4 linked regions of the Homo sapiens genome follow. The protein of the gene in region 4 purifies or fractionates together with the protein of the main gene of each other region. This does not show direct contact. Each region holds a gene or a part of one and is shown on either strand. Other genes may lie near its edges.

Evidence for each region.
Region 1: the proteins of ETV6 (region 4) and LRP5 purify together in Homo sapiens (affinity purification with mass spectrometry; 4 studies listed by BioGRID and IntAct, with this or other methods). This does not show direct contact.
Region 2: the proteins of ETV6 (region 4) and LRP6 purify together in Homo sapiens (affinity purification with mass spectrometry; 5 studies listed by BioGRID and IntAct, with this or other methods). This does not show direct contact.
Region 3: the proteins of ETV6 (region 4) and NID2 purify together in Homo sapiens (affinity purification with mass spectrometry; 3 studies listed by BioGRID and IntAct, with this or other methods). This does not show direct contact.

The regions. Positions count from the first base shown.
Region 1 is NC_000011.10:68,307,782-68,315,598, reverse strand, and holds the start of LRP5 (low-density lipoprotein receptor-related protein 5 isoform 1 precursor), read right to left. Parts: upstream 3,009-7,817; 5' UTR 2,885-3,008; coding exon 2,794-2,884; intron 2,151-2,793; exon of another isoform or gene 1-2,150. UniProt on the Homo sapiens protein: Acts as a coreceptor with members of the frizzled family of seven-transmembrane spanning receptors to transduce signal by Wnt proteins.
Region 2 is NC_000012.12:12,159,018-12,166,044, forward strand, and holds part of LRP6 (low-density lipoprotein receptor-related protein 6 isoform b precursor), read right to left. Parts: intron 6,279-7,027; coding exon 6,062-6,278; intron 5,546-6,061; coding exon 5,256-5,545; intron 3,403-5,255; coding exon 3,176-3,402; intron 948-3,175; coding exon 763-947; intron 139-762; coding exon 1-138. UniProt on the Homo sapiens protein: Component of the Wnt-Fzd-LRP5-LRP6 complex that triggers beta-catenin signaling through inducing aggregation of receptor-ligand complexes into ribosome-sized signalosomes.
Region 3 is NC_000014.9:52,004,309-52,010,086, forward strand, and holds the end of NID2 (nidogen-2 precursor), read right to left. Parts: exon of another isoform or gene 3,660-5,778; coding exon 3,502-3,659; exon of another isoform or gene 2,353-3,501; coding exon 2,229-2,352; exon of another isoform or gene 1,542-2,228; coding exon 1,429-1,541; exon of another isoform or gene 1,189-1,428; coding exon 1,178-1,188; 3' UTR 501-1,177; downstream 1-500. Other genes in the region: RTRAF (RNA transcription, translation and transport factor protein), read left to right, coding at 54-208.
Region 4 is NC_000012.12:11,862,647-11,869,673, reverse strand, and holds part of ETV6 (transcription factor ETV6), read right to left. Parts: intron 251-7,027; coding exon 1-250. UniProt on the Homo sapiens protein: Transcriptional repressor; binds to the DNA sequence 5'-CCGGAAGT-3'. Plays a role in hematopoiesis and malignant transformation.

The sequences.
Region 1 (7,817 bases), on a different chromosome or scaffold from region 4:
CCGGGCCAGGTGCACGTTAACTCACTGAATTCATGGTAGGAAGGATTCTATTCCCATTTTACAGGTGAGAAAACTGAGGCACACAAAGGTAGCATCAGCTTCCTAAGCCTCCCAGCACAGGAAGCGGCCAGGCTGGAATCAGACCCTGGGCGCAGGGGCTCTGTCCACAGTGCTAACTAACTACTCCTGCCCCCGAGGGCTGCAGCGGTGAGTGAGTGAGTTTGTCAGTGGACTGGATGTCCAAGGTCATACAGGAAAAATCCAGACTATTGTAATAACAGCCTCTAGACCGGCTGGGGCCAGAAAGATCGAGGACGCTGACACACAACTGCGCTCACTGCAGCTCTGCCAGGGATGGGGCTAAAGGTCTCACACAGGGCAGTTAGGGCTCCCCATAGCCTGGGAGAGGAACGGGGTGAGATAACAGAAACTAGGTATGGTGCCCGAAGTCAAACAGCCACTGAGCATGTAAACCCAGGTGGGTCTGACCCCAAACCCCTCCACCCCCATCAGCCCTGCAACCCGTCGCTGCAAGGGAGAAAGCAACTCAGAGGCCTCACCTGCCTACATCCCCCACCCGTGTGTGTGAGTTCTACTAAATGCCTGAGCAGTGACACAGCACGGCTGAAATTAAACGGGTTCCAAAAACGACAGGAAGCACGAGGTGAATCTCCCCAGGAAAGTGCTGAACAAATGCTGGATCGGGTTCACCGGCGAATTTCTTGGAACTGAAGAGGGGAGCTAAACACACGGGGCCCTGCTTTGGAGGGGACTCTCTCAGGGTGCTCCACACAGCACTTGGTTAACCCCACTCAGCCCTTCTGGGCTCTCCCAGAGGGCCCGGCCTTGGCCTTGGGCATCTACAGGAGGAACCTCCAGGGGGAGAGGGGGTGCCTGGACAGGCCGGCCCTGGAACAAGCACTTGGGCCCCGAGGAGAGAGGACTAGGGCTTGGGAGCTGGGGAAGTTCTCAGCACTGGGACCACTAGAACAAAGCCATTTCCGTGCGTTCACAGCTTCCAATTGCAACAGGAAGCAATCAGGAAAAATAATTAGCGGCCCACTTACTGGCTTCGCTGAGGTCCGAGGCATGTATTTCACACAGTAAAACCAGGGATATAACATCAAAACCGTTCTGCAGAAAGATTCCTCCCTTTCCTTCCATTTTAGGCCTGGATCACCACATTCACTGGGGCTCCCAGGCCTTGCTGCCTAATGTTAAAATAATCAACTCTATTTTTGCCTCACACACAACTGAACTCTACAGCTATAATTCTTTCTCCTCAGGGGCTCGAACCACATGGACGACAGGCATTTGACTCCAGCAACATCACCCCAAAACGTGCACAAAACCCAAAACTGCAATGAGGTGAAAGGCAACGCGGTCGGCCTAGAAACCCCCCCTTTAAAACAAACAGTTTCCCCAAAACCCCTTTTGCCTCCTTGACCCAGGCATTTCCGGAAAAAGGAGCGGCGCTGGCCTGTACTCCCCAGATACTGTCGCTGTTTTGTCTTCACCTTGTTTTGCTAGCTCCAGACAAGGCCCCACAATGTAAACACGCTCCTGAAAGAGGCAGATTTGGGGTGAAACTGTCCATAGAATCTCTAGGCTTGGGTCAGAGGCAGGAGGACGTGAAACAAACTCCAAGCTCCTCCTGTTCCCCGCTGTCCCCCACACCTCCAAGCAGAGGCTGCAGCCTGGGGGATCTGACTACAGGGCCACCCCGCTGCACCATTCACACTGGAAATATTCAGGGAGACAGCTGTTTGCCTTAAGGAGGCCCAGACAAAGGGGCCCGAGGTCCTCCCCGCTAAACTGCCACAAACAGAACAGGAGCCGCGGCGTGCACAGGCACTTGCGGCCGTGCCACTTGGCCAGCCATACTCCAGAAAAACAAAACACGCACATCCGAAGAGAATGATTTAGGTAGCAAGAGGCTTGCTTGAAAAACCACATGGCAATCTCCAAATTAAAAGAACATGTGTAGCGTTTCACGACTGCTTAAGTTTCCTGAGTCCTCCTGACCTCAACTCCACCCCCTGGGAAACACCAAAAGTTGGAGAGAAAGTTCCCCCGCCCTACCTCTCCCCACGGGAGTGTACAACTGAGGCACAAGCCTGCCTCCCCCACTGCCCCGCGATCTGGGACCACGTCACCTCCGCGTAGCCGACCCGGGGATGGACACTATCTGGGGACCCGGCGGCCACACGGGGCATTCGGGTCGCCCGGGCACCTGGCAGGTGTCAGTCCGCTTGGAAACCCACAGCCACGCGGCTCACAGGAGCAGCGCCACCGGCCAGGCCGCCCCGCGCCCGGGCTCAGAACTTTCTCGCTGCAACTTCAGCCCGTCCTCGGAGCACGCGGGGCGGCCGCGCGGCCGCTGGAAACAGGCTTGCGAACCGGCTCCCCGGGCCAGGCCCGCCTCCGCGCCCCAAGTCCCCGCTCGGTGCCCGGCCCGGGCCACACGGGCCCAGCGCGGGCTCGGCTCGGCTCCCGGCTTCCCGCGGGCTCGGGCAGGTGAGGACCCGCCCGCGCCGCACCTGGCGGAGCGGGCGCCCTCCTCGCCAGCCCGGGACGCAGCGTCCCCGGGGAGGGCCCGGGTGGGGAGACAAAGGGCCCGCGCGTGGCGGGGACGCCGGGGACGGCAGGGGGATCCCGGGCGCGCGCCCCAACTCGCTCCCAACTCGCCAAGTCGCTTCCGAGACGGCGGCGGCGCCCGCGCACTTGGCCGCGGGGCCGCCCGGGCCATTGTCCGAGCAACCCGCGGCCCCCGGCCGGCCTGCGCCCACCTACCCGCGGCGGGGGCCGGGCAGCCGCACAGCGCCAGCAGCAGCAGCAGCAGCAGCAGCAGCGGCCACGGCGGCCCGGGCGGCGCTGCCTCCATGTTGTCCGGCGGCCGGACGGGCCCGCGCCGCGCTCACTCGGGCTCCATGGCGCGGCGGCGGCGGCTCCTCGCGCGGCTCCCGGCGCCTCCGCCTCCCCCCTCGGGCGCCGCGGACCAGGACGACGGGGAGGAGGGAGCTGGGCGCGCGGGAGCGGAAGCCGCGCCGCGTCTCCGCCCCCCGCCGCCGCCACCCGCGCCCCCCGCACCGGCCGCGCCCTCCCGCGGGCGCCCCCCGGAGCCGGCCGGCGGCCAGGCGGCCCCAGCGGCGCAGGTCCCCGCGGCCCCTCCCCGCGCTCCCCGCCCTGCCCTGGAGGTGCCTCCGGGAGGCTTGGCGCGGGGTTTCCGCCCCGCGGGGCCCGGCGGCCGATCGGGGCCCGGAGCCAGGTGTGTCACCTGTGGAGCCTCTATGAGTGGGGAAACTGAGGCACGGAGCAGGGCGGGGTTGCCCAAGGGCACACAGCGAGGCAGTTTCAGGGCGGGCAGCCTGGGGCCCCACGGGGCGGCCCCGGACACTTGTTCTCACCTGTGGAGGGCAGAGAAGGGAACAGGGAGAGAAGTGGCCGGCTGGGAGTGGAGGTGGGTTTGAGGTTTTACTGTAAACTAAATGTGTACCCTCTACCTTAGTTATGAATTATGAGACACGAAGACTGCGAAACAGACACACTCCTCTAAAAGTGCCTCTAGGCTGACAGGGAGAAAGTCCCGCCAGGCTCCCAGACGCCACCTTTGAGTCCTTCAACAAGCCCGCCAGGGCCTCTTGCCCACCGGTGTCAGCTCAGCCACTGAACCCTCCAGGAAGAAGACGTGCTGGTAGGAGAAGAATCTCACCCAGGCACAGCCTGGAAGGGGCACAGAAGGGGCTCTGGAACCAGCAAGCCCAAGTTGGAACTCCCAGTCTGCTACTTTCTAGAACGACTGTGCCCTTGGCGGGTCTAAGTAGAACCTCTCCGCGCACTCTTTCCTCCTTTGTAAAGTGGGGACAGCAATGGCCACCTTGCAGGTTCAGAGAGGGCTTGCAGTACCTCACAGAACTGAGTGCCCGTGAACGTGTGTGTTCCTCCAGATTTGTGACAGCTTTGCCAGGCTGGAGTCAGGCTGAACGCCTCTGCCCTCATGGGGTTTATATTCTAGGAAGACCAACAAAAACAAGAAGACGGAAAATTAAAACAACAAAAGCCCCATTGACAGGCCATGAAGAATGCCATGAGAAATGAAGGGCGTTGTGCTGCAGTGTTTGGGGAAACTGGCTTAGGGAAGGAAGGACACTTGAGCTGCTACCAAGGAGCAGCCGTCCGGTGGGAGGGCAGTTCAGGAAGAGCAGACATCCACGGAGGAGGCGCTGGGGCAGAGGGCAGCCTGGTCGCTGGATTCGGGGGAGGAACCACATCAGGCCATGAGCTGGAGCTGGTGGTAGAAGGTACAGGAGAGGCCAGCCAGGGCCAGCACATGTCAGACCTCAGGCGGGGAAGAGGAATCGAGAATGCACCCCACGAGCAATGGGAAGCCAGGCTAGGATTTAAGCAGCAAAAATATTTTCCCTTCTTCCACCCTGCATCCAGCTCTACCAGCACAGCCTGGGGTTCTATTTTCAAGATAGAAGAGACCCAGACTCCCAGCTCTTCTTACACTTCTACTACTGCCACCTGTCACCCACTCATGCGTCCCCACTTGCAGCCTCGACCCCCTTCCACCTGATCTCATGGCAGCCAGGGAAGCTCCAGGGCTCGTGAGGGCTGCCATCTCAGGAAAGAAGCAAAAGCCTTCGGCACCTGCAGGGCCTGCTCCAACCACACTTCTTCCTTGACCTCTCAGCTTCCTTAGCCACTCCCTTCCCACATCTCACCCTGCTCCAGCCACAGTGGTGTCTCTGTGGGTTCTCAAACACACCAGGTGCACTCCTGCCTCAGGGCCTTTGTGCTTGCTGTTCTCTGCTGGGACTCTTTTTTTTTTTTTTTTTTTTGAGACAGGGTCTCACTCTGTGGCCCAGGCTGGAGTGTAGTGGTGTGATCGTAGCTCATTGCAACCTCAAACTCCTGGGCTCAAGCAATCCTCCCACCTCAGCCTCTCAAGTAGTTAGCTTTTGTTGTTTTGTTTTGAGATGGGATCTCACTCTGTTGCCCAGGCTGGAGTGCAGTGGGGCAATCTTGGCTCACCACAACCTCTGCCTCCCAGGCTCAAGCAATTCTCCTGCCTCAGCCTCCCAAGTAGCTGGGATTACAGGCATGTGCCACCACGCCCAGCTTATTTTTGTATTTTTAGTAGAGACAGGGTTTCACCATGTTGGTCTGGCTGGTCTTGAACTCCTGGCCTCAGATGATCCACCTGCCTCGGCCTCCCAAAGTGCTGGGATGACAGGCATGAGCCTGTCTCTAGTAGTTAGGACTACAGAGAGGGGCCATCATGCCTGGTGATCCTCCCACCTTTTCTGCTCCAACTCTTTCACCCCACTTAGCCTCGTGGCTCACTCTCTTACCTCTTCAGCTCCTCAGTCAGGCCTGAGGACCCCTGTTGAAAATTGCAAACCACACCCCCCACCACCACCACCCACTATTGCCAGCACTTTCTACTCCATTTCTCTGCTTTACTTTTCTCCTTTGTACTCATCACCACCTGACTCATTACATGTTTACGTATCTTTCTTCTCTCCACTAGCATGGAAGCTCCAGGAGAGCAGAGAGTGTAGTTTTATTCCCTGATGTGTTTCCTGTGCCCGTACCAGGGCCTAGCACACAGTAGGTGCTCAGTAAATGTGTGTTGGATGAACAAATACAGTGAAAGGATCTGATCTACATTTATAAAGAAGGCACTCTGGCTGCTGAGTGGGGATGAGACTGTCAGGAGGAAAGAGGCCCCTGTGGGGGCCTGGCCAGCAGGTGGGTACAATGGTAGCAGCCAGGAGAGAGGGCCTCTTGGACTCAAGTGGATGGGGCCTGCTCAGGGCTCCAGCCACAGGAACAAAGGGAAGGGGGCCCAGGATGGCCTGTCATAGAGGACACATTACAACTGGCCCAAAGTTCAAGTCAGGTTTCTAAATTTGGGAAGGGATACAGAAAAACTAAAGACTCTACTGGACAGTCAGTTATTGAAATGATTACATAGAAAATGTACCAAGAATTAAAAAAAAAAAAAAAAAAGCATTATGAAGGGGCCACCAGAGACTCCCAGAGAGGAAAGGGACTATGGGCTGGATGCGGTGACTCACACCTATAATCCCAGCACTTTGGGAGGCCGAGGAGGGTGGATCACGAGGTCAGGAGTTCAAGACCAGCCTAGGCAACATGGTAAAACCCCCGTTTCTACTAAAAATACAAAAAATTAGCTGGGCATGGCAGCATGTGCCTGTAATCCCAGCTACTCGGGAGGCTGAGGCAGGAGAGTTGCTAGAACCCAGGAGGCAGAGGTTGCAGTGAGCCGAGATTGAGCCACTATGCTCCAGCTTGGGCGACAGAGCAAGACTCCGTCTCTAAAAAAAAGAAAAAAAAGGCCAGATGAGGTGGCTCATGCCTGTAATCCCAGCACTTTGGGAGGCCGAGGTGGGTGGATCACGAGGTCAGGAGATCGAGACCATCCTGGCTAACATGGTGAAACTCCATCTCTACTTAAAATACAAAAAATTAGCCGGGCGTGGTGGCGGGCACCTGTAGTCCCAGCTACTTGGGAGGCTGAGGCAGGAGAATGGCGTGAACCTGGGAGGCGGAGCTTGCAGTGAGCCGAGATTGCGCCACTGCACTCCATCCAGCCTGGGCGACAGAGTTAGACTCCGTCTCAAAAAAAAAAAAAAAAAAAAAAAATTAGCTGATTAGTTGGGCTTGGTGGCGGGCGCCTGTAATCCCAACTACTCGGGAGGCTGAGGCGGGAGAATCACTTGAACCCGGGAGGCAGAGGTTGCAATGAGCCGATATCACGCCACTACACTCCAGCCTGGGCGACAGAGCAAGACTCCATCTCAAAAAAGAAAAAAAAAAAGAAAGGGGCTGTGCTGTGGCCTGGGACCCAAAGCACACTACTGCAAGGTCCCAGGGTGCCTGACTCCAACCGGAGCCTTGAGAACATTCATTTGCAAAGAATGAATTAAAATTCAGCACTATTTTATTCTGCAGGATTCCAGCACCCCAAGGACAGTCATTTTTAGACCCTTCAGTAACGTAATAAGTAACCGGAGGATGTGCTGAGCTTCCACTTCCCCAGACGGTTGCCTGTCACAGCTCATCAGGCCAACAAACTTTTCTTAGGCCTCAAATTTGGAAATGTTCACTCTCAGTTCGTTCCTTAGATGCAAGTCCATCCCAATGAAGTAACAGGGGCTCAGCACCTGTCCAATCTCATTGCTTCCGGGGACAGGGGCCCATGAGGATGTCGTTTCAGCCCGGTGACACTTGGGCAAAGTGCCTTTTGGTTTCCCTCCCAGGCTGGAACGTGCTGGCTCTGTGAAGTTACGCTGGGCACAAGAGCCCCCCCCAACCCGGCAGGACTGACTGCTGTGGTCAGAGGCGCCCCTGGGGCTTTGGGAGCCACAGAATCTTCCTGAGGGCAGCGCCGGAGGAGGCCCCAGTGAGAGTGCCCACTGCCAGGCTCATTCCTCAGGCTGCCGCAGGCCTCTCCCCAAAACAGGCAATGCTTCTCAGCAACCTGCCCCAGGAGCAGGCCAGGGAAGGCCGCCATCGGCCTACAGTGCTGGGCTCTGGAGGGCTTGGTTGGTAACAGGCCATGGTTTCTATGAGCCAGCTGGGGTGTGAAGGACACAGGCTGGATTCACCTCTCTGGGCCTCAGTTTCTGCATTCAAAAAGTGGGAATCATGATATCTGCTCTATTTCTTATCTCTCAGTGCTGATGTGAACCTCCAATAAGACTTTTAAAAATACTCTTTCTACCTTACTTTTATTTTTCATTTATTTTAAGATAATGTCTAGCTGTCTCACCCAGGCTGGAGTG
Region 2 (7,027 bases), 300 kb from region 4:
TGGTGCGGTTTTGGCCACTGGTTTTGTTGGCACGCTCAATGCTGCGTCGGCTCCAGTCCGTCCAGTAGATATAATCTTGGTACTGAGTTAAGCCAAAAGGATGAGGCAAGTCATCTGCTATAACTTCACGGTTGAGCCCTATTTTCAGAAAGGCAGTAGACAGGGGAGAAGCAGAGTGATGAAATATGTGAGAATACAAGTGTCTTGCTGGCAAAAAGAAAAAAAAAAGCCCTAACATATAAAACATTACATTGTAAGCAATTTAAAATAGAAAAATTCATTTAAAAGCAATTCTAAAACGAGACCAATTCTCTGAAATCAATCTATCTTCTGACCCCATGCTTCAAACTTATATTCCTGCTACAAATCACTCAGTTTCCTAAAATTCTTGCAAATGGTCTACTTTAAATGTGGTTTTATTTTCTCTATATAAGGGTCTACAGTTCACTTTTTCTTCTTGAACTATAGAAGGAAAAGATGGAAATATATATATTTTACTGGTACAAAAGTCATTTCAGGAGTATCTAGGGAGTTATAAATTTCATTACAAGTCCAATAATAATGAAACTTTCACATAATAAAAAGATGAATCCAAGTACCTGGATCACTATTAATAACAAACAGGATACAATTCCAGAACAGAAGAAGAATGGACACATTCATATGAAGTTGTATTAAAAGTATCTAACCAATGATAAATAGCAGCCACTGATATTTGCATGGAAAGAATATACTGTTTGAGTAAAAAGTAGTAAAGCTTACCAAGCATATTTGAAGATTCTATTAAGTTGGTGTCCAGGTCTGTCCAATAAAGCCTCCTTTTAGCATAATCAATAGTTAGGCCGTTTGCCCGCCCCACATTTGGAACTAAGGTAGTACGTTCACTTCCATCCATTGCAGCTCTGTCTATCTTAGGTTTTCCACCCCATTCAGTCCAATACATAAATCTAAATTCAAAATAATAAATATTTAACATTTCAATTTTTTATTATCTGGGGGAAAGAGTCATATTCATGCAAAGTAACTAAATAAATTTAAAGAAAACATACAGCAAATCAAGGAAATGGGTTAAACAAAATCACGGCTACAATGCTTTCAATTATTTTGGCACCCTAAACTAAATATTTTTTTCCATATCCCAAAAAGGAAGTGAGTCAGCTTTCCTTAGTCTTTCCAATACATTTGTTCCATCCAAACCTAGGAATTGGAAATAAACCAACAGTTTATTGCAGTACTGGCATTTGTAAAATTAACATTCAAGAAAACAGCAAAGGTTTAAAGCTCTGGTCTCAGAATCTGGTTCACTTCTGAGTAAAATATTTTTATATACTTTTGAATATTAACTAATTTGAGTTTTTAATATGCTGAACTTACTTTTTGACTTGTGTAATCAACTCTTCCTCAAAATAAGTTGCAGAAGTACATGAAAGGTAATTATAAATACTAAGCCTTTAACTGAAGTCAAAAGCAAAGCTTGAAAATGTATTTGGTCATATGGTCCAAGGGAGCATACTATATGGTAAGAACAACGACTCACCCCTTGATGTGTCCACTGGGCAATGAACACTACACTACGCTACAACAATCTCTGTGAAATTTTAGAATAATTACTTTGCTGTTATTTTCCATTTTTGAGTTTTGCACTTTAATCTTACAGTAATCCTACAGTATAGGCTTTTTATAGATGAAGAGCCCAAAACACTACAAGAAATGTGAACAACTTATCTAATGTCTTCAAGCCAGTTAGATGACAGAGCTAGAACTAGAACCTAATCCTTGGCCAAATGCCCTTTCAAGTAAACTAGTGAGGTGCTAGTTTTTGAGACTCTTGAATACTGGAACTAAAAAAGCACATCACATGCCAGCTCTCACGAAATACCTGAGGACATATATTCACTCATCAGCCTGTCAGCTGATAGCTGACTTGGTAGCAATGTATGAACATGCTTTTCTGAAAACTGAAGGTGTCCTGCCTTTATATGCATTTGCACTTGTCATTTGACAGGCATGTGCACACCACAAGAGCCAAAGAGAAACAACTGTGAGAGAAATTTCATACTTGCCAGCAGCAACCAATTAGTCCCAACTATTAAATTTATCTGTCTGGCAGCTAATGTTTAGAGCAAAGATCACCACAATATGTCAGTGCTGACTAGATGAATTACTAGCTAATCATGGAATCAATGTCACTTCAGGGAAATTATTTTAAGTAGCAAATACAGTAAACATATTTATATGTTCACACTGTTTACTTCTTTTTTTTTTTCCAAGATGGAGTCTTGCTCTGTTGCCCAGGGTGGAGTGCAGTGGCACGATCTCGGCTCACTGCAACCTCCACCTCCCAGATTCAAACAATTTTCCTGCTTTAGCCTCCAGAGTAGCTGGGACTACAGACACATGCCACCATGCCTGGCTAATTTTTTTTTATCTTTAGTAGTTACGGGGTTTCACCATGTTGGCCAGGCTGGTCTCGAACTCCTGACCTTGTGATCTGCCCACGCCTCGGCCTCCCAAAGTTGCTGGGATTACAAGCGTGAGCCACCACGCCCGGCCTGTTGACTTCTTTTATAAGTGGAATTTTTCTTTAGATTTCAGATTTCTTAGCTGCCGGCTTTAAAAAATTTGCTGACTCTTGTAAAAAGGAACACTCGCCCTTGAAAAACATCATGTTGTGAACAGTTTATTCTATCTTGTAATAACAAAGCTACTGCCAGTTTATAATAATGATCAAACCAAACTATCCATTTTGAATTAATAAATACTCCAAAATAAAGCTTTTTAAATGTAGTTTTTTCTTAGCTCACAACATTGTTTCGGTGGGTTTACTTCAATAGGCTTGGAATCTAGTATAACTGGGAAGGAGTGCAAGCAACTACAGATGGATAATACCTCTTGGTATATATACTTAACATATCAGTATACTCATCAGTAACATTTATTAACCCATTCCCCTCTTTCTTCACCTAAAGTTAATTACGACAAGAGTAAAATTAGCTAATAATTATTCATTCAAATCAGCAAAATATCAATAGTGTTTTTAAAAGTTCATCTATCATTTAGTTCTCAGATTCCTAATACGTATTATTTAAAACATTAAGAATATCATCTGTAACTATGCCATGTTCCCCGAAATGTACACTGCAGTTGCAAAGAATGCACATGTAAAGCTGTTTACCCTTCGGCAGGGTCCAACGCGAGAGCTCTGGGACTATCTAGGTCTTTCCACACCAAAACTTGTCGGTGCTGCCCATCCAACTTTGACACCTCAATTCGATTCGTTCCTGTGTCTGCCCAGTACAAGTTCTTCCCAAGCCAGTCTACTGCCATGCCTTCTGGATAATCTAAGCCGAATTCTACCACATGTTCCAGTGCACTGCCATTCATAAAGGCTCTGCTGATGGTCTGCAAAAGAACATTAACAACTAAGTCATATGGCATAAGTCTAAACCCTATCCAGAAAGAAGGTTTGGTTTGGTTTTTGTCAGGGGCAAGAGGATCCAGAAGTGCCAAGAGGCATACTATTTCCTATTAAAATTCACATAACTTGCAAGCACAGAAAAATTTGATGTCAATCTCTAATAAATGCAACTTCAAGTTTTACTGCCAATTCAGGGGAGAAATTTTAAAACTCTAATGCACCAAAAATTTATTCTACTAACAGCAGAATGACTTTACTTTTAAAATTTATCAGTAATCAAGTGGAAAAGCTGTGACCACAATGCTACAGATCTTAATTAGTGGTCAATTTTCTAAAGGTGCTTAAGATTATGGCAAGTCATCATGCCTACCATATAAATGAATGTAACCATTATACTACCATTATAGCACTGAGTCCCATAACACTTTTAAAAATCATAATTCAAACTAATAATAGATACATCTTATCAAGTATTATCCTAAGTACGTTTTGTCCGTAGATTTTGTCACTTAATACAACAGTCCTGCAAGTATGGCATCACCCCTATTTTATGTTTTTGAGACAGAGTCTCACTCTGTCACCCAGGCTGGAGTGCAGTGGCATGATCTCGGCTCACTGCAACTTCTGCCTCCCAGGTTCAAGTGATTCTCGTGCCTCAGTTTCCCGAGTAGCTGGGATTACAGGTATGCGCCACCATGACCAGCTAATTTTTGTATTTTTAGTAGAGACGGGGTTTTGTCATGTTGGCCAGGCTGTTCTCAAACTCGTGACCTCAGGTGATCCATGTGCCTCAGCCTCCCAAAGTGCTGGGATTTACAGGCCTGAGTCACCGCACCCAGCCACCCCCCATTTTCAAGATGAGGAAATTTAGAACATCACCCAATGCAAACCAAAATTTATTTATTTCATTTATTCACTTAATAAATTTAACTGAACACCATTAGAATCCAACTCTGACTCCAACACCCCATGTTTTCGCATATTACAAAAAAGTTTACATGAGTTATCTGAAACAAGCCCAAAACAATCTGGAAGAAGAAAAGATTATTCTTCAGATTTATAGGTTGGGAGCTTCCTCTCTGGCTATCCTGGTATTCTTTTCAGTAACTATTCTAGGAAGAAGAAAATAAAGAATAACTCATTGTTGGCCTTTTCCGCCTCAGTCAGGCCCTAAAATTTTGTTTAAAGTAAATCACGAATTTTTTTTTAAAGTAAATCAACAGCCATTTTACGTGAAGCACACATTTCCTTACTCAGCTAATTGCAGAAAATGTCATTCATCATTTTCAAATGGAAGAAAGTAGAGGAAGACTATGGCTTGCAGATTTAAAACACTCTGGCAAAGTATCTGTATTAAAAAGCATCTAATAAAATACTGAATGGGCCTTTCCCTTCACTTAAAAACTTAAGGGTTTTGGCTGGGCGCGGTGGCTCACGCCTGTAATCCCAGCACTTTGGGAGGACGAAGCGGGCGGATCACGAGGTCAAGAGTTCGAGCGGCCTGGCCAACATGGTGAAACCCCGTCACTACTAAAAATACAAAAATTAGCTGGGCGTCGTGGCACGCACCTGTAGTCCTAGCTGCTCGGGAGGCTGAAGCAGGAGAATCGCTTGAACCTGGGAGGCAGGGGTTGCAGTGAGCCGAGACTGCACCACTGCACTCCAGCCTGGGTGACAGAGCAAGACACCGTTTAAAAAAAAAAAAAAAAACTTGAGGGTTTTTGTTGAACTCTGCCTGTCAAACAATGAGGGAGGTGGGTCACAGCATGAAGATTCAGAAATTCTAGAAGTTCTCCCTTTTAGTCCCTAGCTTTAATATTCCAATTCTTTTGCTAACCTTGAGTGATATATCAGTCCAATAAATTCGGTTGTCTGTCACATCAAAATCCAAAGCAGAAGCTTCTTTGACACCAGTGAGTGGAATAGCCACATTATTATTGTTTGTTTCCAGAGAAATTCGTCTGATATCTGCTCTCCGTGAAAACAAAAGGAAAGCCTCTGGGACAATGCAGGTCTTCATGTCACTGATGAGTTCAAAGCCAATAGGGCAAGCACAGCGAAGGCCCTGAGGTCTATAGAGGCAGAGATGGCTACATCCCCCGTTTTCCTCAGCACAGGGGTTGGAACCTAAAAGATTAATTATAAAAGGGGCACAGAAGGACACACACATTGATACATTCAACATATTTTCACTTTTAAATTACTTAAGCGTTTGGTTCACAAATGCCTATGATTATGTCTTGCTCCCAATCTCAAGTTTCAATTCTAATATCACAAACAAGTAATATGCAGATTAATAGGGAGTAAAAGCATGGTGAAGTATTTTCCTTTAATACCACAGTAAGCTTTAAAGTAAGGTATATTATTCATACTATCAGACTGAATTCTTTTGATGAAGGTGTGCCTGTGCATGTGTATTCAGCCCTTCAATTCAAACTGGGTAGCTAGAGTAGTAAGTCAACGTTTAAAAGGTCCCTTCTCAGTAAAAAAAAAAAAAAAAAAAAAAAAAAAAAAAAAAAAGGCGGGGGGGCAGTAAAGAAGGTTTCAAAATTGCCTCAAAACATCAATAATTTACACTGCTGACTATCTCCATCTTTTTTCATTCCTGGTTCCCATTTCTAAGAAAGCTTTGGAGTTACTCACCAATCACTCGATGAACATTTGTAGCCTTTAGGCCCATGAGGTCAGGCAGCTGATCTATGATCACTTCCCTCTCTGCACTTCGTTTATGAACTCTTTCAATGCTACGCCTCTGCCAGTCAGTCCAGTAAACATAGTCACCCAACAAAGTAAATCCAAATATGTGAGGAATTTTGTCTTCCACTAGTACTCGTCTCCCAGTGCCATCAGTATTCATAACCTTCAGGTTTAAATTCAAAAGAGAAGGGGATGAATTATGCATTTATTCTTCAGCTAAAAATAACAAATCCAACTGCCTGTTGTATAAAAATCCAAGAGTCATCTTGGTATTCCTATTACAATGCTTTCTCAAAATTACATGATGATTTTATAAAAATGATTTCAAATTTTCCATATAAGCCTCTATTTGACCACTTTTCCCCCCAATCTCATATTACTCTTCCTTCTAAAAATTCTGGCAACTTTAGATTATGCAACTCTTCTATTAAACAATTGTGGCAAAATTAAAAATACAGTATCATCACCTTAAGTTTGCACATTTGTTTTCAAATTATAATGTACCTTCATATACATTATTTTATCATATATTTTGTTTTATAACATCTTTTATTTTATCTTGAGAGCTTTGCCTATGGAAACTGAGATTCATGTAAGGTCACAGAGCTTGTAAACACAGTTGATGTCTTTTTCAGGACTTTTTCCACTTAGCATGCTTTTTATTTTGTTGTTGTTGTCAGTAACAACAAAAAACAGATAAAAGGGATCTCAATAAATCTCTCATTCCTCTGAGATTATAATCACAAAAGTATCGGGATTATATGACACCCTCTCTGCATCTAAGTTTCAAGAAACTAGGATGTACCTTCTCTTTCCAACTACCTAATAGTAACATTATTAAATTCACTCTGGCATTCATACTGTATTCACAGTGCATTCACCATGCACTATTCAGTGTTGACTTACTTGGGA
Region 3 (5,778 bases), on a different chromosome or scaffold from region 4:
GCCTTAAATGTAAAAATTATGTATTGAAGCAGTGTTCTTTTCTCATAAAACAGATGCAGTTCTTAATGAAGCTGCTCAAATTCTGCGATTGCTGCACATAGAGGAGCTCAGAGAGCTACAGACAAAAATCAACGAAGCCATAGTAGCTGTTCAGGCAATTATTGCTGATCCAAAGACAGACCACAGACTGGGAAAAGTTGGAAGATGAACACTTGAGGACTTCAGCTTCTCACCTACTTAGTACAGTTGGGAACCATACACTTCTGGCATGTTTGGAAATCAAAATGTCACATTCTCGGGGGAGGAAGCCCAGAAAATTGGGTATGTTCTAGAGATTTACCACCATTGCTTATTGCTTTTTTCTTTAATAAAGTTTAGGAAAGTAGAATTTTTATTATGTACTGTATGTTTGCATAAATCACCTTTCTCCTTTGTGGTTAAGGCATATATGCCAACCCCCAGCTTTGTCCTAGAGACAATATAGATCCTTAAGTCATAGGAAAACTTAAAACACTTTATTGGAGTAATCTAGAAAATTTTAAAATTGTTACATCTTTGGTATTTATAAATGTGATACTTTACTTTCTGTGGGTACTTCTATAGAGGCACTACAGGATCAGAAAATGCAAATTGAATCATTTTAGCACCTTTTGATATAAATAGAAATGCACTGATGCAGAGGTAAAAAATCTTAGAACTTTTGTTGGGAAACTATAAATAATTGGTCCTTTCCCATCAGTTCTGCATTGGCTTCTCCAACTGTCAAGGTTTAGGATTATATTGTTATATTGATCACATGTGCTTTAATTTCTTGGCCAGAAGGAATCCATGGCAAAAATCAGGTTTAGAGTCTTAAACTCTAATTCTTAGTTGAATGAATTTGATCTTTTAAATATTAATGATAAATGTTTACAAGAAGTTGCTTTAATAAGCAACAGTTAAAATTCTGTTACCTTTTTAAACTTGCAATAACAACCTTCATTTTTAAAAATACAGTAGTAAAGATTGAGGTATCAGCTTTTCACAAAAGTCTTTTTGCACTACAAAATGTTCATCTTGGATGCTCAGGAACGTCTAATGGCCAATTCCTTTTTTACTTTCTTTGCCTTTGCAGTCACTGTTCTTTAGGGTCCAGGTTCTGATTGTAAACTCCAAGTCTTCCTTTACATTACTGTACTTACTTTCTTCCTGTGAGAGAAGAGCAGGGGTGGGACAGGGTGGTGGGTGAGTATATTGTAACCAAGTTGCAACAGCAAGTCTTTGCATTTTGTGTATAAACTAGGTAGATTTAAGGTAGTAAAGACTGGCCCTCAGGGCAGGAAGAAGGCAATGGTGGCAGTGTCACAGGCAGCAGGGGTAATCAAATACCATATATATCCCTTCTCTACCCTGCTAATTTAAAGGAGCATCCTAAAGCATACTTTTTACCTGTTGGGCAGTAGGGGTAGACTGCAGTTATCCCGTAGAGGTGAGATCGTTGTTCTGGGAGATACTCATCAGTAAACTGGCCACTATGTTTATTTACTGATACAACACCATCCCTGGTAACAGAAAGGAAGAGTGAATTCAGGGACAGTCATTTACTAGATAAAGAAGTCAGTCAGCCACAGAAAATCAGTTGCAATAGAGGAAAATTTCTGGCAGCCTTCTCTGTCCCAGGGCTGGTGCTAAAGCCATACTGAAGTTTGAAGACCATTGCTCTAAATCCATTGCTCATCTCTAGCTGCATGTTAGAATCACATGATGAGCTATCAAATCAGAGTTGTAGGGCATGGTGTAAAGGGCTTAGACTTTAATGTTCCACAGTTCCTCATTTGAGAACTAGTCTAAATAGTATTTTTCGGTCCCTCAGACAATATGTCCACAGTGTCAAAAGCCAACTTAAGCCCTGTAATATAGCTCATGGTATCAAGGGTAGTCTTATTCTCTAAAGAACATATTTAGATTAATATGCTCCCTTTTGAGACATTATCCAATAGCTTTGCTACTTTTTAAGCTATATGTGAGCAATACCATTCGATTTCTGGGTGAAGTAAAAGGATGATTTCAAAAACATGAAAGGATGAAAAACATCCTTGAAGGATCTTATCTGCCAATGAGGAGGTGATGAAACAAAAGCCTCAGAGGGCTTAATGAGTCAAGTCAGGTACTGACTTTTGGTAAAACAAGTGGTGTGTCCTCTGGAACAGTTGGCCTTTTCAGGCTTGTCCAGAATTTGTGGGGCTCACCTCCTCCAGTCTGTGTGGTAGAAGTGATCTGCATAGCTTACGATGCTGAAGGGGTACTTGAGGTTGTTTTGAATGACACGCCGTCCAGTTCCATCAGGTAGTGTACACTCCAGTTTTTTGGTTCCTTTTAAAACAAAGGGGGAAAATGAGGTCCTTCAGCTGCTTTGCCAAAAATGATAGTGACATAGTGATAGTGACACAGTGATAGAATGGGGAAATAGGATATTTTACTTCCATTACAGTCATAGATTAGCAACTGTAAAATTACCTGTCCTATTACTAGTCTCCAGTTTTTAGTAGAGATTCAAACTTTCAATCCTTTTTTGGAAGACAGGATTGCATTTACTGAAATCTGGTAAGTTTCTGCCAAAGTAGGGCATTAAACATAATTATTTTTATAATTTGTGTGATTTCAAGCCTTAGCTTATAAATTATAACATCTGGGTAAATACTTGCCCTTTGTAAGCTATGTCTATAATTACTGAGGCAACCTTTTAACCAAAATCCTTAGTATTTTTAAAATATTTTCTAGGTAGGAGGAAAAAAGTGACTAAAATGGTAACATAACTCATATTTCAATGTAAAGGAATCAGTCTTAAAAATTTTTACAATAGCTAAACCATTCAAGAATTTCCAAGTTTCACATTTCTCATGGAGCCGATTTAAATTTCAAATCCTTTTAAGAAATGTAACTTGTTTTAAACAACTGGGTTATAAAAGTGACCTATGTACATTAGGCCCTTTTATTAGATTACAAATTCAAGAACAGTCTTTTTCATATTCTTTAGTATAGAACTAGACACACAGCATTTTTTCAGTTGTGCTGATAAAAGCAAACAAATGTAGGTTGCTAATACCCATGTTATTACTGAAGGAAGCTACCCTGCTACAATGCTTTCCAAAGAATGTCCTTAGCATTATAACAGATGTTTATAGGTAAGTTATAGTGACCCTCTCCCCGCATAAGAATAACTTCACTTAAGTTTGTCAATTCAACAATGGCTAATTCTTTTAACTGTTAAAAATATGCCAGGCACTCATGGTCAGGCAAGCAGTACAAACTTACTGCTTGATATATCCTTCCCTCCACCCAAACCCCAGAAAGTTCATTTTAAGACTCATTTACTAGTACTTAAATTTACTAGTACTTAAAAGTTTACAGACCAAAGAAAGGAGATCTAAGTGATGGGATTTCATTTTGTAGTAAAATCTGTTAGTGCTCACATTCACTGTGATGAGAGGTTATCTATTTGCATTCCATCAGTAGTATTACCTGCATCTGCCCAGCAGAGCAGTTTAGAGAAAGGGTCAAAGGTTAAGCCATTGGGCAATCCAATGTCTGTATTGATCAGAATTCTTCTGTTTTCTCCATCTAAAGATGACGTTTCAATTTTAGGAGCTTCTCTATTCCAGTCTGTCCAGTACAAGTTGCTGTAAGTTAAAAATCAAGATTGTAAAAGAATAGCCATGTAGCCTGTGGTAGGCAGCATCTAAGCAGCCCCCAGTGATCTCCATCTCCTCATGTATTATAGCCTTAAGCAATCCCCTTGAGTTTGGGCTGCATTAGTAGTGTCTTGCTTCTTCTAGTGCATAGAGTATAGCAGAAGTGATAGGCTATCACTGCCGATATTCGGTCTCAAAAAACTGGTTTCTGCCTTAGGGGCTCTCTCTTGCTCCCTTTGAGGGAAGCTGGATGCCATGTTGCAAGCTACCCTGTAAAGGGGAACATGTGCCAAGGAACTGATGTCCTTGAGGGCTGTTGGCCAGAGACATTAGTCTTGCCTGTAGCCCATGTGAGCATGCTTGGGCTGTGTCTTCCCCGAGCTGAGCCTTGTGATCACTGCAGTTTGGCCATTACCTGATTGCAGCCTTGTGAGAGACTCCATGCCTGAGGGAGCTCGGTGAAGACACACTTGGATTCCTGACTCACAGAAACTGTGAGACTAAATGTTATCTTACACTGCTGAGGGTTTGGGCAATTTCTTACACAGCAGTAGGTAACTAATACACAGCCATATTCCACTTTTACCTGTATCACAAGGTTTTCTGATTATTGTCACTATGTGGGAGAAGTCATTACTAAGTTACTATCAGAATCCCTGCCTCCAAGATACCCCTTGACTCAACTGCCCCAAAACCCTCCGTTTGTTGAAGTCTTGAATTGGATCTTGGGTTTTAGAATAGAAACAAATACAGCTGTTAGGAATGGCTTCGATACAAACTATGGAACTTGAAGAGATGTGGACCAGGGATTTGAGAAGGAAACTGTTCTTTCTTCTGCCAAAAATACAATTTGGTACTTGAAGGGGTACCTGGCACCCAGGGATGGAAACATTTTAAGTTAAGCACTTTACCTTTTAAATGCCACGTTAAAAATGAAATATATTCATAACAGATACTAACGAGGAAATATGGTCCTATTAAGTGGAAATAGGTTATAAGGAAACAAACAGGTTTATCGTTAGAGCAGAAATAATGTTGAAAGCACTTTTTATAAAATACTATTTTATAAAAGCTATAGAAGCTTTGAATAAATCAGTTGGGCTACAGAGAACCTCAGTGAGAGGAGAGGAAGAAACCATAGGTTTCCCCTGTTGCGAATTTCATCCCTTATGCCCAACAGATGAAGCAGAGAGAAGCTGAGAGCAAAAGCTAGAAAGCAGTTTCCACTTTGCGCTAAGGTGGAGGTGGCCAGAGGGTACAGCATGCATATCATTGCTTCATCGCTTCTGATCAGTCTCCTCCCCAAAATGATTTAATATCATCAACAACAATAAGTCTGAAACAAGCTCACACAGATATTTGGTGTAAATTATTTGGGGATTGCCAGAGGAAGAAAGTTGTAAAGGTGAAATCTATAGAAAGCAAATGAGAAATATGCAGGAAGGCTTGACAACCATTCTGTTACGCAGTTGAAGGAGATGTAATTACATGTGTTATATTGCAACCTGGTTCAAGGTGGGTTTTCTTTTTATTAAAAATTCAAGTCCTTTAGCATTTATATTTGCTGTCTGGATAAGAAAGTTCTACTTTCATATTTAAACTCATGGCTGTGATGTGGATTTCAGCTTAAAAGTATGCTTTTTCCCCAGACTCCAGAGACATGGCCAAAGTTTCATTGCCTACAAGATGGCAGCTCTCCCCAGTTTTCAGGTCAAGCACCAAGAAGGAATAAGGGGCCGGGCGCAGTGGCTCATACCTATAATCCCAGCACTTTGGGAGGCCAAGGCAGGTGGATCACCCAGGGTCAGGAGTTGGAGACCAAAATGGCGAAACCCTGTCTCGACTAAAAATACAAAAATTAGCTGGGCATGGTGGCACATGCCTGTAGTCCCAGCTACTTGGGAGGCTGAGGCAGGAGAATTGCTTGAACCCGGGAGATGGAGGTTGTAGTCAGCCGAGACTGTGCCACTGCACCCCAGCCTCGGCAACAAAGCAAGACCTTGTCTCAAAAAAAAGAAAAAAAAAAGAAAAAAGGACCTTCCAAATGTCCAAATGTCAGAAAGGCAAGCCTATGCAAAGAGTTTTTAAGAGGGCTATTAATTCCTGT
Region 4 (7,027 bases):
GACACTGACAGAGGGTAGGACTCCTGGTGGTTGTTCTCCTGGTGCGGCCTGGGTCCCTGAGCTCTCTCAGCCGGGGAGAGGCGGCGGATCATGTTGTCCAGGGGGGACCGGAGGGGCCGCTGCTCGGGGTCAGGAGAAGGCCGGTGATTTGTCGTGATAGGTGACCTGGAGCGGTGCAACAGTTCAATGGTGGGAGGGTTATGGTGCACATTATCCACGGATGGCCTGGGGGTCCTCTGGACACAGTTATCTGTGGAGCAGAGGGAAAGACAATCACAGACCCCAGTGAGTTGGCAGGACAGGAAACTCCCTGCGGCTCTACAGGCGGTAAATGGAGGAGCGTGTAGGTATGTGTAAAGGACCTTTCTCCCCAGAATGCAGTGTCTTTTTCACTGCTTAACAATTTGAAGGGTGCATATTTTTTTTTTTTTTCTGTTTGAGATGGAGTCTCACTCTGTTGCCCAGGCTGGAGTGCAGTGGCACGATCTCGGCTCACTGCAAGCTCTGCCTCCCGGGTTCATGCCATTCTCCGGCCTCAGCCTCCCGAGTAGCTGGGACTACAGGCGCCCACCACCATGCTCGGCTAATTTTTTTTATTTTTAGTAGAGATGGGGTTTCACCGTGTTAGCCAGGATGGTCTGGGTCTCCTGACCTCGTGCTCTGCCTGCCTCAGCCTCCCAAAGTGCTGGGATTACAGGCGTGAGCCACCGCGCCTGGCCTTAAGGTGTGCATATTGAAACTATTTTTCTATTGCCAGACAACCTAAGGATGTCTACAAGCATTCCGTTAATGACCTACCTGTGGCCTGTAGGCACAAGGAAGCCAAACTTCCATGCCCCATCTTTTGGCCATCATTTAACTCTTCTACGTCGCTTTCAGAGGTGGAAGGGTTCTTACAGGTTTCTCTCTAGATGCTTTCATTGACTTACATTTTCACAACTAAAATTTTCATATTCTCTAACTCTAGGAGTTATTAGTATTAGTGATAATGTTAATAATATTAGTAATAATTATTAGTAATAACTATATCTTAGATGCTGGATTTCACTGTTTAAAACTTATAGCACTCCTGGCTGGGTGCGGTGGCTCCCGCCTGTAATCCCAGTTACTCGGGAGGCTGAGACATGAGAATCGCTTGAACCCAGGAGGTGGAGGTTGCAGCGAGCCAAGATCACACCATTGCACTCCAGCCTGGGTGACAGAGCAAAACTTTGTCTCAAAAAAAAAAAAAAAAAGAAGAAAAAAGAAAAAAACCCCCAACCTTATGACACTCATGACACTCCTAACCAAGAGATACCACTAGTACCCCTATTTTACAGATGATAAAACTGAGGCGTAAAGAAGTTAAATAACTTACCCAAGGTCACACAGCCAGTTAGGAGATTATAGAACCAGACTCCAGTCAGATTCTAGAACCTGTGTACTCATGACAACATCTGTCACTGCAATATAGAAACTATGACACAAAGTCACACCAAAACCTGCTCTAAGCATGCACAGTGGCCCCAATTTACAGAATGACAATCTTACTGAACTTGAAAGAACTTTTGGGAGCACTTTGCTCCTGAGTGCTCAGAGACAGGCAGAAGTAAGGAAGAAGCAGGATGGATGGACACCTCTAACTCATCCCACTCAAAGTTGCAAGCTGGTGACATGTGAGCGAGGATAACATCAGAAGTGTACACAGCTCAGCAAGAGAAGTAGCTCTGAGGGCTGGGTCGGGGAATGGACCGGCACACACCTGGCTCCAGAAGTCCCTGCTAAGGTGCAGAAGGACAGAAATCTGCCCATAAAAATGGGGATTTCTACACGGCTCCACACCCAACTCAATGAACTCTCTCTGGCCACATCTGTTCCCAGGGCAGTCTCACCAAAAGGATGTGCATGCTTGCTGTCCTTGTTCTGGTCAAAGAATTGTCCACAGTTCTAAGTAAAGCAAGTCAAACATATCACCTTTGTCCATTAAGATAATATACATATATGAAGAACACATAAAGTGAATTCCGTAATTTGATAGGGTCAGTAAACAGAGACAGACATAGTGGTTTTAAGTTTTACACAGGGTTAAGAAGAAAATGCGGACTTTTTTCTTTTTTGAAAGTTCTACTAGATCTCATCTATCATATGATCACTGAACAAAAATATTGTTCACAATATTAAAAGATCATCTCCTTGAAGGCAAAGGGCTTATTTTGTGACTACTGTATAACCCACTGCCATAAATTCAAGTGCCTCATCATTGGAATAGCTATCAATAGAAGACTGATTTAATAAATTATAGTATATATCTCTAAAAAATGGAGTACTACGTAAAAGTAAAAAGGAATGAGGAGTATCTTGATATTTTGCTAAGGACTAGCATCAGAATCTATGGTTAGATACGAAAAGCAAGATGAAGTATTTATGATCTGCCACCACTTATCTAAACAAGGAAAGGGGCAATTTCAGTTCAACAATAGCAGAGTGGCGTGTACCAAACTAACCTTCTTACGGGTAGAAATGAAAGAAACCATATTAAATACATTGAAAAAACTATTTGAAGGTATCAAGGGCAGACAAAAACCGGAGAGGATTTCACTCTTGAAAGAAGGGAACTGCACAGAGTGAGGTCCATATTTAAACAGCTTTCCCCCTGATTCTGTTGATCTCCTAACTGCCCTATGCTGCATGTTCCTCCCCAGTCCGTGCAGCACAGGGGCAGTTAGAAGATAAACAGAAAGTTGCTTGAGATAGAGTAGGTAGCTGCCAGAATGGCAGAAAATTGAAGAAACAAATCCCATACAGTGGGAGCCACAGAGGGGAGAGTGATTAAATTGGCATGTAAAAGCTTCCTCAAATTCTTGTCTGATTACCGAATAGCCCAAGTGCCAGGGAGACCCTTTGGAGTTCAGTGAAAAGCAACAGTTGTATAATCAAAAGATCTAAGCGGAAACCTCAGCTACTGGCTACTGCAGTGGAGACAGAGTTCAGAGTTTGAGTCTCATCAAGTTCAAAGGCTCTGTAAACACTTCAGGCTGTTTGTTACCCCAGAATGGCCACAATGTAGGAGTAAAAACCCTAGGACAAGGGGATCTGCTAAGGGCAAAAGGCAAAATAGAAACAGATTGGACCTAATGAAACGTAAGACCATGCCTCTACAGATTCAAAGTAACTGGCCAGTAATTTGATTGCCTCCTAGAACAAAAGTCAATACTCTTCAGTGGAATAGAACACAATCCAGTGTCTCAATGTGCTCAGCATCCAGTCACAATTTTCTAGATATGAGAAGAAATACAAACATGTGACTCATAATAAGGAGGAAAGGCCATCAAAAGAAACAGAACCTGAGATAATGCAGATGTTGGAGTTAACACAAACAAACAGAAAAACTTTACAGCAGCTATTATAAATAAGTTCAAGCCCTAAAAGAAAATCATGGTTGTAATAAATGATGACACATACAGGCTGCCAAAAGGGAAATGGAATTAAAAAAAAAGGCAAAATAAAGATTCTATAACTGAAAAGTATAATATCTGAAATGAAAGACCGGACTAGATGGACTTAATAGCAGAACGGAGATGAGAGAAGAAAGGGTTAGAAAATTTGAAGACAGATCAGTAAAAATGAAATCCAAACAAAACAAATCCTCAGTGACCTGTGGAACAATATCACGTGGTCTAACACACATGTAATTGGTGTCCAAGAAGGAGAATATAGAAAAAAACAGAGTAGAATAAATTAAAAAATAATGGCTAGATTGTCCTCAAATTTGGTAACAACATTATCAACAACAGTAAATTCGAAGGTCCAAGAATCTCAAGTAAGATATGTAAAATAAAAACCACACCCAGGTACACCATAGTCAAACTGCTGAAAACCAAAAATAAAGAGAAAATCTTGAAAGCAACCAGAGGAAAAAAAGAAACTATGTACAGGGGGAGATTATACTAATATACTATATATGCATAGTATGATATATAGTATATATATACACACACACCATATATACTATATATGATTATAGTATATATGATATATAGTATATACTAATACTATATAAGTATATACTTACATAGTATATATAAGCCTACGCTAATATATATAATATATTATATATACGAATATACTAATTATGGCTGACTTCTTTAAAAAAACCTGAAGAGAGGGACTGCTCAAACACACACACAAGAAGGTTGCAGATGGGAACCTATAGGTTGAAAAAAACTTAAGAGATACGTTAACCATCTGCAATGTATAGATGTTGTTTGGATTCTGATCCAAACTGTAAAAAACATTTATGAGATGGTTGGCAAAAAGTGAACACTAGCAGATTATTTGATGATACCGAGGAACTACTAGTTTTCAAGTGATATGATGGTTCTATTATGATTTTATAGTCTTTTTTTGAGACCTATGTTGACACTATTTTTTTTTTTTTTTTTTTGAGACGGAGTCTCGCTCTTTCACCCAGGCTGGAGTGCAGTGGCGTGATCTCTGCTCACTGCAAGCTCCACCTCCCGGGTTCACGCCATTCTCCTGCCTCAGCCTCCTGAGTAGCTGGGACTACAGGTGCCCGCCACCATGCCTGGCTAATTTTTTGTAGTTTTAGTAAAGACAGGGTTTCACCATGTTAGCCAGGATGGTCTCGATCTCCTGACCTCATGATCCGCCCACCTCAGCCTCCCAAAGTGCTGGGATTACAGGCATGAGCCACCGCGCCCAGCCTGTTGATACTATTTACAAGGGAAATTATATATCTGAGATTTGCTGTAAAATAATCTGGGATGGTGAAGGAGAGAGGAGGTAGACCACAGAGGAAGACATGATTGGCCTTGAGTTGATCATCAAAACTGGTGATGGGTACATGGTGATTCATTACACAATTCTCTTTACTTTTGTATAGGTTTGATATTTCCTGTTATAAAAAGCTTTTTTTTTTTTAAAGTGCTTAATTAACCTTGCAAGGATATAGGTTGGAAAGACAAGCACTAACTTCCTCACTTTAACCCAAATGCATAGAAATGCTTACTGGGCACCAACTAAAATGATCTGTAATCTTTTGTAGACAAGGCAAACTTTCCTTTTATAGATAATATGGATGTCAATTCTGCTGCCCATAGAAATGTATTTATCTTTTGTCCCTGGTCCACTTTTCATTTGTCACAGAATATGATCACTGTAAACAACTATTGAAGACAGTTCCAGTTTGAACTTTCCTATATTTTCTTCTAAATGCCATTTACAGAATGTCTCTCTTTACTTAAAAGCTTATTAAGGCTTAAAAATACTTAAGGATGATGAAGACCATGTATTGAAAAATCCCATTTCCTGAATCCATTTCCCATCTTATAAATTTCAAAACGGTCACAGGCGTTGGTCAGTAATCTGGTTACCTGCAGGCTTTCTTTGATGTCCTGGGCTTCAAGGCTTAGTGTGTGGGTGTGCACTCAGGGCAGGCCTTAGGAAGTCTGGGAGGACCAGGAGAGGAAGAACTTTCATGCCAAGGGTAAAGGAGGAACTGATGTAATGTCCTGGAGAGATTTCACTCTCCGTTCCTGCCCAGACCTTGGGAACAATGCAGGAGGGTGATAGTGCTTTGGATAATCCAACTCAGATTTTACTTTGGACTCAGGATCCAGGCAGGAACAGGACTTGGAGGAGCTTGATTTATTTATTTCTCCACAGATATCACTCAAAGAGGAAGTACTTGATGAAGCTGATAACATTAACAGTAGAGAACTGGATCCGAGGGTATTTAATTCCAGGCTCCTGGTGGTCTGGGCACAACCACTGTCAAGGCTGAGAGGCCTGCAATGAGACCCTGCAAGCTTTGTTTCAGTCTGCAAAGCAGTGCCCATGTATGGAGTAGGCTATGACATTCTCAGCCTGCTGCCTGCCGCCTCTGTTATTATAAGTTGGCAGCAGGGCATGGAAACTTACGAGACCAGAGCCGGCAGGCAGAGAAGCTCCGGACACAGGAAATGCACTGAGCGGACAGTGGGTGCATTAAATCCCCCAGATGTAGGAGTCTTCTGTCTAAAACAAGAAGATTTTTTTGGTCTGGCCTTGATGTCTGGGTTTGTTCTTGGTGAGCTGCCCAGCTGGAAAACTGGGAAATTATCCACATTGCCCTCATTCTGAAGGTCTTGATATGGAAGGGAAATATACAAGGAAGAGGGAGGGAAAGCCAGACATAATTAGTCCATGTGGGCACAGAAGGAAGGGAGGAAGAAAGACCAAGGACTGGCAGGGAACCGTCATTCTGGTTGGAAGTGTTTTCTGATCCCAAACCTTTTTCCTTGTAGACCTCTGTCAGACACAAATAATCCCTTCTTCTCACTGCCAAACGGCCTAAAATAAACCAGGACTTTAAGTGGGGTAATTTTCTTTACAAAAAGGTCTGATTTCTTATCCTTTCCTCTTATTAGAAAAGTTTCTCTACTTACAATTCATAAAAATTTGACCCAATTTAACCATGCTATAAATAATAAATAACCAGTAAACCTAAACAAACAGACAAAAAACTGCCTTTAGTGAAAGTTTTGACCGATAAGTTTCCAGGGAGAGCAAAGGCTAAGATCAAGTTTGCATCTCACACACCAGGATCACATTTCCACCACCGTGCTTTCCCTAAGCCCACGGATGCTGGTCAGAGAAGAAGGTCACCAGGGAGACGCAAATCAACAGGCCCAGGAGGTAATGCTCACTCAAGCCTCAGTCCACTGGGTTTCACTTTCTCCCTCTCCCAGTCATTTTGTTAAAAATTAGTGGGAAGTATGAATGATACACAGAGCTAGACAGAAGTCATAAGCTCAAGGTCTTGAGGTGGAATTCAAACTATATTTCATATACCACTCCCGGTCTCTTATGCCCATTATGGGTTGACTATCTCTCCCCCAAAATTCATAAGTTGAAGTCCTAACCCCTAGTACCCTCAGGATGTGATCTTATTTGGAAAGACGGTCCTTGCAGATGTAATTAGTTAGGATGAGGTCATTTTAAACATCCAATATGACTGGTGTCTTTATAAAAAGTATACTCTGGACTT